Homo sapiens: one gene and its partner. The protein of the gene in region 1 interacts with the protein of each later gene in a pairwise test. Each region holds a gene or a part of one and is shown on either strand. Other genes may lie near its edges.

Evidence for each region. The genes of interacting proteins can lie anywhere in the genome.
Region 2: the proteins of ZNF165 (region 1) and FAM124A interact in a two-hybrid assay, tested with the Homo sapiens proteins (2 studies listed by BioGRID and IntAct).

Annotation. Positions count from the first base shown.
Region 1 is NC_000006.12:28,083,557-28,090,081, reverse strand, and holds the end of ZNF165 (zinc finger protein 165), read right to left. Parts: intron 4,602-6,525; coding exon 4,191-4,601; intron 3,911-4,190; coding exon 3,772-3,910; exon of another isoform or gene 3,724-3,771; coding exon of another isoform or gene 3,696-3,723; intron 1,520-3,695; coding exon 612-1,519; 3' UTR 519-611; downstream 1-518. UniProt on the Homo sapiens protein: May be involved in transcriptional regulation.
Region 2 is NC_000013.11:51,225,379-51,232,407, forward strand, and holds part of FAM124A (protein FAM124A), read left to right. Parts: intron 1-5,969; coding exon 5,970-6,001; intron 6,002-7,029.

The DNA.
Region 1 (6,525 bases):
TCTTACTTAAATGTCTGGATTCTGGCCTCTTCCCTGGGGTGTTCTTCTGGTTTTTTACTTCCTGGTATGACCTCTGGACACAGATTTTGGCCTCATATAGGAATGCCACCATTACATATGTCCTCATTTGACATTACTCTCTAACTTAACATGAGCATCTTAGTTTTGTGGTCTTCAGTTTTTAAAGGGATGCTCTGAAAACACTGTTCTGCAGTGCACTGTGCAACCTATTTCACTCCTGGGTTTAGCTGACCTCTTCTTGTGCTAAACTAACTAGGAAAATAAACTAGGACTGATTATCAGTCTCTTTACCTAAATCTTCCTTTTCTTCCCACACTGTAATCATGATTATTTCCCCAGACAGTCTCTATTTCTCTACATTGCACTGCCATAGACTACCCTATTAGCCCCCCTAAATGTAGCTCTTTTGGTTTGACTTTAGTAGTCAATGAAAGAAGGGGTACATCCCCAGTCTCACAGAAAGCACATACACACAGATTGAACACCAGAAACTGGTCTTTCAGTCTTCCATCTTGCCCAATATTTATTTTTTATTTAATATTTTTCATATTGTGCCATTTCCTCAGCATTTACTTACAAATTTAAGTTCCTTACATTAATAGGTTTTCCCTCATGTGAATTCTCTGGTGTTGACTAAGGTTTGAGCTCTGACTGAAGGCTCTTCCACACTCACTGCATTCATAGGGTTTTTCTCCAGTGTGAATTCTAAAGTGTCGAATAAGATGTGAGCTCACTCGGAAGGTTTTCCCACATTCACTACACTCGTAGGGTTTCTCTCTGGTGTGAATTCTCTGATGCCTGATAAGATGTGAGTTCAGGTTGAATGCTCTCCCACATTCTTTGCAACCAAAGGGTCTTTCCCCAGTGTGAATTCGCCGATGTCTAGTAAGATCTGAGCTCTCTGCAAAGCTTTTCCCACATTCATTACATTCATAGCATCTCTCTCCAGTGTGGATTCTCTGATGCCTAGCAAGTTTTGAGCTGTGCCTGAAAGCTTTCCCACATTCATTACACTGATGAGTTTTATCTCCACTGAAAACTGCTGCATGTTTAGCAAGTTTTGGGCTCTTGAAAGATTTTCCATATTGGTGATTTTTTTCTCCAGCATAAATTATTTGATGGTTAATAAAATCTGAGTTCCATTTGAAGCTCTGGTCACAGGTACCATGTTTACAAGATTTCTGGTGTGTGAATTCATTTGAGTTCAGATTTAATCTCCTCTCACATCCATCGTGGCTTATTATTTCACCTCTGACTGTATTTTTGTGGGTGAGGATTTTACCAAAACCTTCATCCTGGGCAGACGAGAGTCTCTGAGACTCCCCTGATTCTTTTTCCCATTGTCTCTTTACCCTGCCTGCAGACTTACAGATGTCTTGAGACTCACCAGATGCTTCTGATATGTATCCTGAGATTCTTCCAGATATAATTCTCTGTGATTCAATTTTTTCAAAAATTTCCAGCTTTGGCATGGATCTACTGTTTTCACTCTCATTATCTAAAATAAAAAAGAAAGGGAAATATTACCTGTTTGCTGCACGAAAAGAAAATTTTATAGCATGCTCAAGATAGTTACATATTGATATGCCCACTTTAATATATGACCTTTCACATGAGAGGAATGATAGAATGAAAGAGGATGATAGGAATGAAAGAAACATTGGTAAGAGCAAGTAATGCCTGCAGTGGTTGGCAGAGAGAGGAATCAGACGTGAAGCATATATATTAGAAAAGATTGGGAGGATTGTCATCAGCAAGAACTCAAGAGATAGGGGGAGATAGAGTACGGAGAAGGAACTCTACAATGTTGACTGCAGCAGATCTTGGGAACCTTGGGTCTATGATACATTTCTAGAGGGAAAATGGAGGCACTACCTCAAAGAAAGCAGATGAGAACACAAGAGAGAAAAGTAAAGCTATAAGTGACTGTGAAGTATGTGTGAGAAAACTTCCATCCACCTATTGTCTATTTCTTCCTCATATTCCATGGTTAATCAGTCTTCTAAATTCTGTCATCACTGTCCACTAAGTGTCCCTTGTATAAATCCCTTCCTTTATATTTCTGCTACCATCGCCATAGTCTCGAACCTTACCATTTCCTATCTAGACTTTAACTGCCTCCTTGCTGTTTTGACTCTGCACTTTTCTTCTTCCTAGTTATCCTAAAGATCCTTACTAGACTAATGGTCATTAAACACTGCCATCCTTTCATACCCTACTCAAAAACCTTGAATCTCTCTCTCTCTTTTTTTGTTCAAGTCTAAATTCCCAAGCCTGGTTTCCAAGATCCATTTATGATCCAGTCTTCACAAATCCCACTCTATACTGTGCTGGAATTGAACCGCCCTTCTTTATTATAAGCTGTCCTTTGTCTACAATACGCTAGGGCAGGAAAGAGGGTTAGGGAGTGCTGTTCATGGGGTGAGGGAAATTTACAATTTTATATACGACAGATGGAGATGTTTCCAGAACAAAACTGAAGGCAGAATATGTAGAAATTTATTAAAAATTAATTGTGGCCAGGCTCCGTGGCTCATGTCTGTAATCCCAGCACTCTGGGAGGCCAAGGCGGGCGGATCACGAAGTCAGGAGTTTGAGACCAGCCTGGCCAACATGGTGAAACCCCGTCTCTACTAAAAATACAAAAATTAGCCGGGCATGGTGGCAGGCACATGTAATCTCAGCTACTCGGGAGGCTGAGGCAGGATAATTGCTTGAACCCAGGAGGTGGAGGTTGCAGTGAGCTGAGATCACGCCACTGCACTCCAGCCTAGGTGACAGAGCAAGACTCTGTGTCAGGAAAAACAAAACAAAACAAAACAAACAAACCAAAAAATTAACGGTAAGTTATTCTTGGGTTTACTATAGGGACAATTCACACCTTAAGTGATACTGCATCTATGAATCTTTTAAATAGATGAGTTTTAGAACAGAGATGAGTATTCTGTGGAAGTAGTCTCTAGAACTATAGCTAACTTTCTATAAAAGTGTAAAAGAGCTTTATAAGACCAAGAGCATAACAGGAAAAATATGGATCACGGTCTATGTTACTTGTGAATTATATACTATTTCTCAGTATATCATCATGTATCTGTTTCTCTTGATCATTATATGTACTTCTCTATGAACATATTTTGCTTCTGTCCATGTATTTCTTTTTCTTTTCCTTCTTTTCTCTTTTCATGATATTTTCTCAACTCATTCACTTTTATTTCCTTTAATTTGGTCATATCATAAAAATGTTCTGTGTTTTGGAAATATTCTGGATAAGGAACAAAATTATCTTTTCCCCTACCATTGGCCAAAGACTCACAGGAAAACAAGTTCTCTCTCTCTTTTTTTTTTCCTTTATGAGATGGAGTCTTGCTCTGTCGCCCAGGCTGGAGTGCAGTGGCGCAGTCTCAGCTCACTGCAAGCTCCGCCTCCCAGGTTCACGCCATTCTCCTGCCTCAGCCTTCCGAGTAGCTGGGACTACAGGTGCTACGGCTAATTTTTTGTATTTTTAGTAGAGATGGGGTTTCACCATGTTAGCCAGGATGGTCTTGATCTCCTGACCTCGTGATCCACCTGCCTTGGCCTCCCAAAGTGCTGGGATTACAGGAGTGAGCCACCGCACCTGGCCACAAGTTCTCTCTTTTCATTGGGTAATAAAGGAAAGGACCATCTACAGTTACCAAGACTAGTTTGTGGAGGGAGATTCATTCCCCTGTTTCTTTAGTGATGTGCACTATATGGCATTCTGCCCCTCACCACAGTCCCATAGGAGCTGGGGTTCTGATGAATCAAAATGGGCCTTGGTCTCCACTGGCTGTAACTTGACATTAAGTGCTGGTCCAGGAGGTGACACTTTTTTCTGGAATATTTCTTGTCCATGTTCATGGGCTTGAACCTGAGAAAAATAAAGTACATTTGGGCTTATAAAAGAATCCCTGTGTTAAACGTCTTCTAACAACAAAGAGAAACTCCCATAGAAATGCAAAACTGGGGAAGGAAGAATCGAGTCTGATTTAATTGTAAAATGTAGTGTGGAATCAAACAGACAGGAAAGGAGACATAAATGCACACTGAACCAACAGCTCCTGCAAGCTAGATATGCAATCTCGGGCCTCTCCTCCCACCGTGGAACTTTATCCATTATGGAGGTCTTAGATCTCCCATCCCCTGTGCACCTGGAGTACTGCTTCATCAGTGCCTCTCTCCAAATCTTCTAGTATGGTCACTGCCTCCTCTCCACTCTCTGGGTAATGTTCATGTACCCAGGCCTGCAAATCTCCTGGCAGGATGGTCAGGAACTGCTCTAGCACCAGCAGTTCCAGAATCTGTTCCTTGGTATGGATCTCTGGCTTCAGCCACTGACAGCAGAGCTCCCGGAGGCGGCTCAGTGCCTCGCGAGGTCCAGGAGAATCCTGGTAGCAGAACTGCCTAAAAAGCTGCCTGCAGAGCTCCTGCTTAAGGAGTTCACTTCTCTGTAAGCAAGTGTCCTGCCCATGGATAAATTCTTCCTCTTCTATCTTCACTATCAGAAGTCCTTCATCCTCTGGAGAGTTCTGGGCTGCAGCTTTCTTTGGTTCTGTAGCCATCTGTGGATAGAATATATTATCAGAACTGCTTTGGAAAGGGTCTTCTTTAGTTTCAAGAGTCCTCCTGAGGGATCAAAAGTTACTATTACTGTCTAAGAAGATGAAAGACCACATAATAAAAATCGTCATTCTCCATTACACAAAAATTTACTGGGCATTTACTATATGCAAAAGCACTGACATACTTGGTTTCTAGAATACAACTGTTAATGATTTCTACTTCAAGATAGCTTAATTTTTAAATTTAAAAATAAGATAAATTAGAAACAATAAACTTAAATGTAATGCTAAATATTAACAATGTACATGTTATTAAATTTTAAAAGTCACAGAGAAAATAAGGATAAAAAAGAAAAATGATAGAAGTGCTTCATAAAATAGGAGATGAGAAAAATACAGATGGTTGCAATGGTCAAGGGAAGCTTAATGCAAACATGAAATTCTGAAGAATAGAAAAGATTTGACTAGGATGTGGGAGGGAAAGAAATAGGAAATTACGAACAGAGAAACAGTCTGAACAATTGGGTAAGAGTAGGAATACAGAAGAGGGAAAGCAAAACGTTTAGTAGGTTTGTATAAGAAAATTATAGAGGCAAAGCTTGGAGATGTTATTGTAGAAAACATCAACTGTGAAGTTCATGAATTTGGAGTTTATCTTTTAGGCACTGGGGAGTCACTGAAGAGGAGTCAATTCTTCTGAGCAGAATGACCTGCTAAACACTGTGGAGATGAATATGTTCTTCATTTCTAGGGTGGGTGGCAATATGAAAAGATAGAGGCCACTGTATTCATGCAAGTATGAGGTTCTTTTTTTTGTTTTTTGAGAGGGAGTCTTACTCTATCACCCAGGCTGGAGTGCAATGGCGCGATCTCGGCTCACTGCAACCTCCGCCTCCCAGGTTCAAGTGATTCTCCTTCCTCAGCCTCCTGAGTAGCTAGGATTTCAGATGCACACCGCCACACCTGGCTAATTTTTTGTATTTTTAGTAGAGATGTGGTTTCACCATGTTGGCCAAGCTGGTCTCAAACTCCTGACCTTGTGATCTGCCCACTGCCCATCTCAGCCTCCCAAATTGCTGGGATTACAGGTGTGAGCCACCGTGCCCGGCCTGAGGTTCTTTTACTAAACATTTCACTAAGTTGACTACTGACTGATGCAATAACACACATTTTATTAAGAATCTTATCACAAGCAAAGCATTGGGCTAGAAGTTGTACAGCAATGGTTTACAAGAAAGTCTGAATATGACACTGGGCTTGCTGCCTAATCATCATATGGGATCTTTGGTAGAAACAGGTTCTTGGGCCCTACCTCTGGAGATGCAGACTAGGGGCCTGCTCCTAGAGATGGTAACTTGGTCAGTATAGTATATGCCTGGAAAATCTGTATTCTAATATACAGCTTAATGGATTAAACAAAAAGTCTTTGAGTTTGAAGAATAGAAAAGATTTGACAAGGATGCGGGAGAGAAAGAAATAAATTCAGTGGGAAGAACTAGTTGGGAAGAAATTATAAAACATGGATACAAAAGATTTAAATGAGAAAACGTTTCACATGACATATACATTGTACATGTTTGTTAAATGTTGAATGTTGAAGTATAAAATGAGTTTATGGTGGAGATACTGAATGTTCTAACGGTCCTGAGGTGGGAAGAGACTGTGAATGGTAGAAGGTATTTCCTAGAGGTGGTGGGTATTAGAAATAAATTTTCGGTGCAGCAAAAGAAATAGCACTCGAACATGAATTTTCTCATCAAGGCAATTTTGCTTCTATAGAAAGGTGTGTCTCGCAGATGGAGCAATGGTGAGAGCATACCTGATCAAGGGAGAGGAAGGGGTTCTTATCTCTGACGCAGGTAGTCCCTACTGCTATGTCGTTCCCCTATTGGCTAGGGTTGGACTGCATAGTCTAAGCTAATTC
Region 2 (7,029 bases), on another chromosome or scaffold:
CATTTAGTATGTGCCACCTACTGTTCTAAGCCTTTATGTATTTCATGGACTCCTCGAATCCTTCAACAACTCTGTGCAGCAGGTGCTTTTTAAGACCAGCCTTGAGAAACTATATTTAAACGCCCAGTCAATGAGAATGAGCTGATAAAGGAGCCTGAGAAAGAGTAGACTTGGAGTCAAAGAAAGAAGAATATGAATCATTGAAGCCAAGGGAGGTTTGAGTTTTTGAGAAAGGAAGGAGAGATCAACTATGCTACTGAGAAACTAATGAAGATGAGGAACGCTAAATGTCTTTTTTAAATGGAGATGATGAAGTGAAGGAAGAGTGGTATTTCACAGCGGGGTGGTGGAGGCAGGAGCCAGATTAGAGTGGCTCTAGAAGGCAGTAGAAGGTGAAGAAAAGGAGACAGGTGGATTCCTTTGTCTGGAAAAAGGAGAGGCAAAAAGAGGCAGTAGCTAAAGGGGAGAGTGGAGTGAAGAAAGATTTCTTAAATATAGGTGCTAATTGAGCAATCAGTGTGATAGAAAGGATTCTATAGAAGGGGGAAGGAGAAGGAGGAGAAAAGATGATAATCTGTAATGTTGCTTGCTTGCTTTCTTTTTTTTTTTTTTTTTTTTTTTTTTTTTTTTTTTAACAGACAGGTCTCTCTGTCACCCAGGCTGGAGTGCATTGGTGGAATCATGGCTCACTGCAACCTCAAATTCCAAGGCTCAAGTAATCCTCCCACCTCAGCCTCCTAAGTAGCTGGGATTACAGGCCCGCACCACCGACACCATGCCCAGCTAATTTTTTTATTTTTATAAACACAAGGTCCTGCTATGTTGCTCAGAAACTGTCTTAAACTCCTGGCCTCAAGCAGTCCTTCCACCTTGGCCTCCCAAAGCACTAGGATTATAGTTGTGAGCCACTGCTTCTGGCCCTATAGTGTCAGCATTCTGAAAAAGTGGAGGCAGATGGACTTCATACCACAGGGGGATGGATGGCTTTAGGTAGGAGGCAGGACATCCCCTCCTGCAATTAGAAGGGCAGGCAAGATGGGGTTTCTCTTTGGTGTAAATACAGCCCTCCATCATCTGAGGAGAATGGAGATTTGAATAGTTGTTTGGGGCAATGTTGAGTGGGTGCCCAGTTGAAATTTGCAATTACGTATTTAAATAAATAACAAGGGGTACGAGTTCCCGTTGTTATTTATTTTCTCGCAGCAATGCTCAACTACCTAGGGTCAGGCAGAGAGAGAGAGTGGGTAGTTAGGATCATCAGAATTTGGGGTAAGGGGGTGTGAACAAAACACAGAAACAAGGGCTGTCAGGGTATTGCTTAAGCTGATTATCCTTTCAGTGGCATGATGGAAGAAACAGTTCCGAGAAACTTTGTGGGTCCCACTGCCAGTGGCCATGTTGGCCACTTTGAAAGTTACAGTCACAAGAGCCAGCCTGCTTGCATTCATATTCTGGCTCCTCCACTTAGGGACTGTGAAACCTTGATCCAGTGACTTAACCTCTCTCTGCTCTCAGTTTCCTCCTCTGTACAAGAGGGATGACGATAGTAGTACCTACCTTCTAGGGTTGGTGTGAGGATTAAATGAGCATATATATTTAAAGCCCCTAGAACAGTGGCTGTTCAGTGTCTAGAACCCTTAGTACATGATTATTTCTCACCATACTATATTATTATTGTTATGAGGAACACTCCAAATTATAAACTTAGAGTTTTATTTAATAAAAATGGTGAACTCAAGACCATATGTTTTTCAAACTCATCACAATAGATCCTCTGTTGCTTTTAAATACCTTAAGTAATTTGATCATTCAGAGCATCTGAGAGACTACAGGGCATGCCTCACTATTCTAATAATTATATTTTACAGATGAGGAAATGGAGACTCAGAGGGCACATGGCTCGTTAGAGGCATGAATTGAAGCCTGGATCTCCAGTATGCTTCCCACCTAGTGAAGTTGCCTCTCCAGGAGCTGTCTGATCTGTAATTAATTCTTGTTTTCTGCTCAGACATTTTCTTTTGCTTGAAATGCTGCTGCTGCTGTCTCACCCACCTAATACAGGCCAAGACTAAAAGCAAACTAGTATTCTTCTGTAGCAATTGATATCATTTTGAAACTCCCATTTTCCAAATCCACTTGAAAGATGCCTTGTGCTTTTATGTACTTTCTGTTAGCAAAAACTGGCAAGTCGGCTGCTGATGGTGGTAAACTATCTTAAGAAACAGAATCCCTTAAATAGAAGGACAGCCAGTTCCTTGTAAACCCAAATAAAAGCCAGTGCTTTATAATGACTGTTTCATTAGTGATGTCTTCAAGATTTGGCATGTAAGCCACTCTTTTGTATGTGATGGGTTATTTTCATTCAATAGTTTGGTCTGGCATTAATGAACTTCCACTTCCATCTCAGCTGTCACTGAGCTTCTGAACCTGTAGGGCCATACCATGCCCTGTTTCTTTGGAGGACCTCCAATTGATACTTCGCTGTGACTTAAGACATAACAAAAAATCAGGGGTCTAGACTTTAAATAGGTGGGTGGAAAAGAATAGGTGGGATGAATTTTTAAATGGGATAGGTCTTTTAAAAAGATGAAAGGGGAAATGCTGTATAGAAGACCAGATCGTTTGTTAGTACTTTGTTATCTTTGTATTCAAGGTGGAGCTAGTTAACACTAAATTTAATTCAGTGCAATGAGGGTTAACAGAAGAAGTTCATGATGCTCAATAGCTGATGTTTTACAGAAACATCAAGATCAATTTTACAGGAATGCCAAGATCAATTCTTATGCCATGATTTTCCTGGAAAATAATTTATTCTGTATATATGTAGTATATATATATATGTAGTATTCTGTATATATGTAGTATATCATTTGGTAGCTAGGCTGCTGTCTGATAGGGTAAACTGTCTTAAGTACAGAACCTCTATGTAATCCCTATATGTAATATTGTAATTAATATAGACAAGGGACTGCATCTAACTTTCTGTTCATTATTGGCACAAATAGTAAATAATATTTGGAAATGTGTCTATATTTGTCAGGTGTGTGAATGTACATAATTTTTGTATTATTCTGCTCTATATCGTGTATAAATTTTTCATTCTAAATTCACCTTTCATGCTTCATTCTGGCAGGGCTGAATGTCTTATGCATAGCCAGCTAACTAAATTCTTAAAAGGTGAGACCAATAAACAGAAATCTCAAGGCAGCTACCCTACTGCTGTTCCTCTTGCCTAAAAAAAACTTGTCCAGAGTACAGACTTGTCCAGAGAACCCTAATGAAATACCTGGTTATTCTCTGAAATGGTTTGAACCTATTTATTATGTGCAGAATTGTTTCAAGCTTTGTAGTTTGTCTTTCCTAACCGTATTTCTAGTAAATAAGCTTTTGAGGTTATTTGGAATATATTTTAAGAGCTATAAAAGTATTTATACCTCAAATCAGTCTATATTTCCACCCATGATAATTTTTCTAAGGAAAAGAAAATAAATATAAAGCCATATTCATAAATACCTCATTGCCGTGTGTTTTGTAAAGGTGAACAACCAGGAGCGATCATTTAGCCAACAAAAGGGTTGAATAAATTATAGTGTATTAATTTAAAATGATAATTACAGGAAATGTGTAGCAGCATGTTATGATGGTATCAAGTGAAAAGAGCAATTCAAAATTGTGTCTCCATCATTATGGCAACTGTGTACAAATTGCATATACTGAGGATCAGAGGCTGGAGAGCAGTGGGAGGCTGTAGGTGACTTTCTGTGTGTTTCCGTTGTGACGGTGGACCCGGGTGAAAGTTGGACAGCAGAGCTGGGCCATCCGTCACGGAGAGAGGGGTTTGTGTTTTACACTAGCGAGCTTGAATTTCATCCAGAGAGAGACATGATCAGATTTATCCTTTGCAAAGATTGGCTGCTGTATGTGGAGGGAACTGCAGCAGGATCAGCGTGATTGTCAGAAGGCTGACCATTCGGCGGGCCCAACCCGGTGGTGCCCTTAGTCTCTAGAAACGTGGAGGGACTCATAGAGGGGCATCAGTTATGCCAGCACCTGTCCCAAGACACTAAAATACTGTTGCACTTTAAGATTCTTGAACTATGTTTCAAGTGTAAATTTCATTCTACATACATATCCATCTGTATGCAGATCTTTAAAATGTATGCATATGTGAATCCCATCTGCTTCAAGAGAATTTGGAAAATCCTAGCTGAAAATACACATTTTAAAGAATAAAAGAAATAGAAATATCGCCATTCTTATTGTGTGTTGTATTTGAATAGTCATGACATTTCTTTAAAGTCTGTCCATCTTAAGATGATTTTATTGTAATCAAGTTGTTTTCCTGTTGCATCTACCACAGTGGATATTTGCTGAGCAGTCACTAAGTTTATATATAATTACATTTCCAAGTATTGTTCTAAAGTTTATGTCCTGAATGGTTCCAGAAAGAATTTAATGCACCAGTACTGGGTTACAAATCCTGGGCTTCAGAATGTTGCTAATCCTTGACCCTCCCCTCTCTGTTGTCTCCCTTAGCTAGTATGTCACCATGTGCTAGCCAGTCAATCCCTTCTGCCTTCGGAGTCCTTCCTCTCCACCCACCGTGCACACTCAACTTCAGTCACTAATCATTGCTCACCTCCTGGCCTCTGTACAGATAGTATCACTTTAATTTCCTAGTCAATAAAATATTGAATTATATATATATATATGAATGCAGTTTGTAATATATAAAGGGATATGCAAATGTTGGTAGTTGTTATTCTTTCCAGTTTTAAAATTCATTGATTCCATGACTACTAAAGTATTTCATTTGTGAAAGTGAAAACCACATGTTGTTTTCTTCCATTTTGTTCCTCGACCAATAAATCAATGCAGCATTTTGAGTGATGTAGGTTATTTTAATCAGTAAGAGGCATGCTGCTTATGATTTTTTTAAAAAGTTTTGCATGTACTTTTTTAAATGTGGCAAGAAGTTCAATGGAGTGAAAATTGGATGATTCAGGAAAGGCAGCAGGAGACTAAGGAGATAAAAGGAATGTATATCTATAAAATTAAACATAATTAAGCAGTTTATTTGCATAACTTCGTCCCCTAACTTCCATGGCAGAATAAATCCCTACGTGCTAAAGTGATTAATTTCCTACTGAGAATGACTTTGGGACACTAGGGGAAGAAAATAAGTAGCTTCCATATCAAATTTGTTGCCAGAGAGGAAAGTCTTAACAGCTACAGAAGTAGGGCAGAAACTTACTAGAGATTAAGCAGATCCTTGGCCAGAGCCCCACTCTTACGGAGGCTGAATGCCAGCAGCTGATTTCTCAGCATAGAAACTGAAAGGGCGATTTCACCCCAGCCTTAGCCTGCCTTTTCCCTTTCCCGATCACAGCTCACATCCTGTTACTCTAATATCCAGCAGGCTTTCTTCTCAGATGGAACTGAAATCAGTGGAAATATCATTGTGCCTTTGTTTCCTGGTGGTCAGCCCCACCTTGAATGTGGAAACCTTCGCAGCTGAGGTTCCCTCTCTCCTCGCGCTGGGATCCTCTGCTTATGTTAGCAAAGAACATTTCCCCATGGTGTTGTGCGAATATTTGAAGGGTGCTCATTTGCAGTAACCTTTGGAGTGAATCTGTGAGTGGTGAATCTGTTGAAAACTTTGGGGCTTCTCCCCAGAGAAATAACCATTCAATATTTTTGCTAAACCTTTAGATGGCTTCTTCCAAACCTCATCAGAGGAATTTGCAGAACTCACATGAGAGCCCCCAGAATTCTAAAGTTCCTTTAAAGTTTTCTTTCAAATTCAGACATAACTTTATTTTGCATAAAATGAGCCTTAGCACTGCAGTTTTTAATTGGTGACATTTCTTTACCAGCTAAATGCTACTTACCACTGACTGTTTAAAATTCTGGCTTGAATAAATCATTTGGATAAAGAATTCTACTAACGCTGAGGTCTTGTGTTTCAGGTCCGACTACAGCCACCTGTCCTCCACGAGCAGTAAGTATCTTTTAAACATCCTTCAGCATTGTCTAACGGTCCCCGGAGAGGTCAGTACCCTAGAGGCCATGTGTGTACATGGTTTTATAGTAGGTAAGAATCACCAAAGCATCTTTGCCAAAGAATGTGGTACAGGATGCTGTAACTCTGGAAGTGGAGGCTTTTCCTGGAGAATCTGATCATACAGAAATTCAGCCTGAAGGATGTAACCCAGGCTTTATCAGCTGCTTGTGGATGCTTCTAGGAGCATCATCTCTGAAGAATCTGAGGTAGCGCTTTCATTGAACAAACATCTATCAGATACCTGCTACCCTCAGGCAAACAGAAAGCTCAGAGCACAATTCCTGGATCCCTGCAGTTGCTCCAGCTCATCTCTTGCAAAATCTCTTCCCTTGCATGTCTGCATCTGCAGGCAAATATCCTTCCCTCTCCAATGGAGGGAACATCTATCTCTGGCAAAATCCTGCGAAGTGTGTTAACAGTTGGAACAGTTATAGCTAAAGTGGAAAAGTGATAGCTAAATTCCCTAATTATAACCTACATTGGTTATACATGCCAATACATATGTACCAATACGTATGCACATTGATATACATATATATCAGTATGTATAACCGATGTAGGTTGTAATTAGGGAATTTAGCTATTACTTTTCCACTTAAATGTGGCTAAAAGAATACAGACATTTTTATCAATCCATCATCCTGTATTTGTAATTCCTGGCTTATAAGTGGTTATTATATGCAGCAGAAAATGATCAGGAATATGTTTACAAAGACACTCTGGTTATTAAAAAGGTGCTTATATTTAATATTAAAGTACAGGTAAATTTACTCATGAGAAATTATGCCTCATAACTAGAAAGAATTGAGAGTGATTAAGATTACTACATAAATGACCAAAGCCATTCAGATTGATTGAATACTTATTTTAAATTAACAAAAGTAATTGTCTTAATATAAAGGCCCTGATTGTTTAAATCAGTAAATATTAAATTGTTTTGCCCTATCTCACTAGCCTGTTAAACT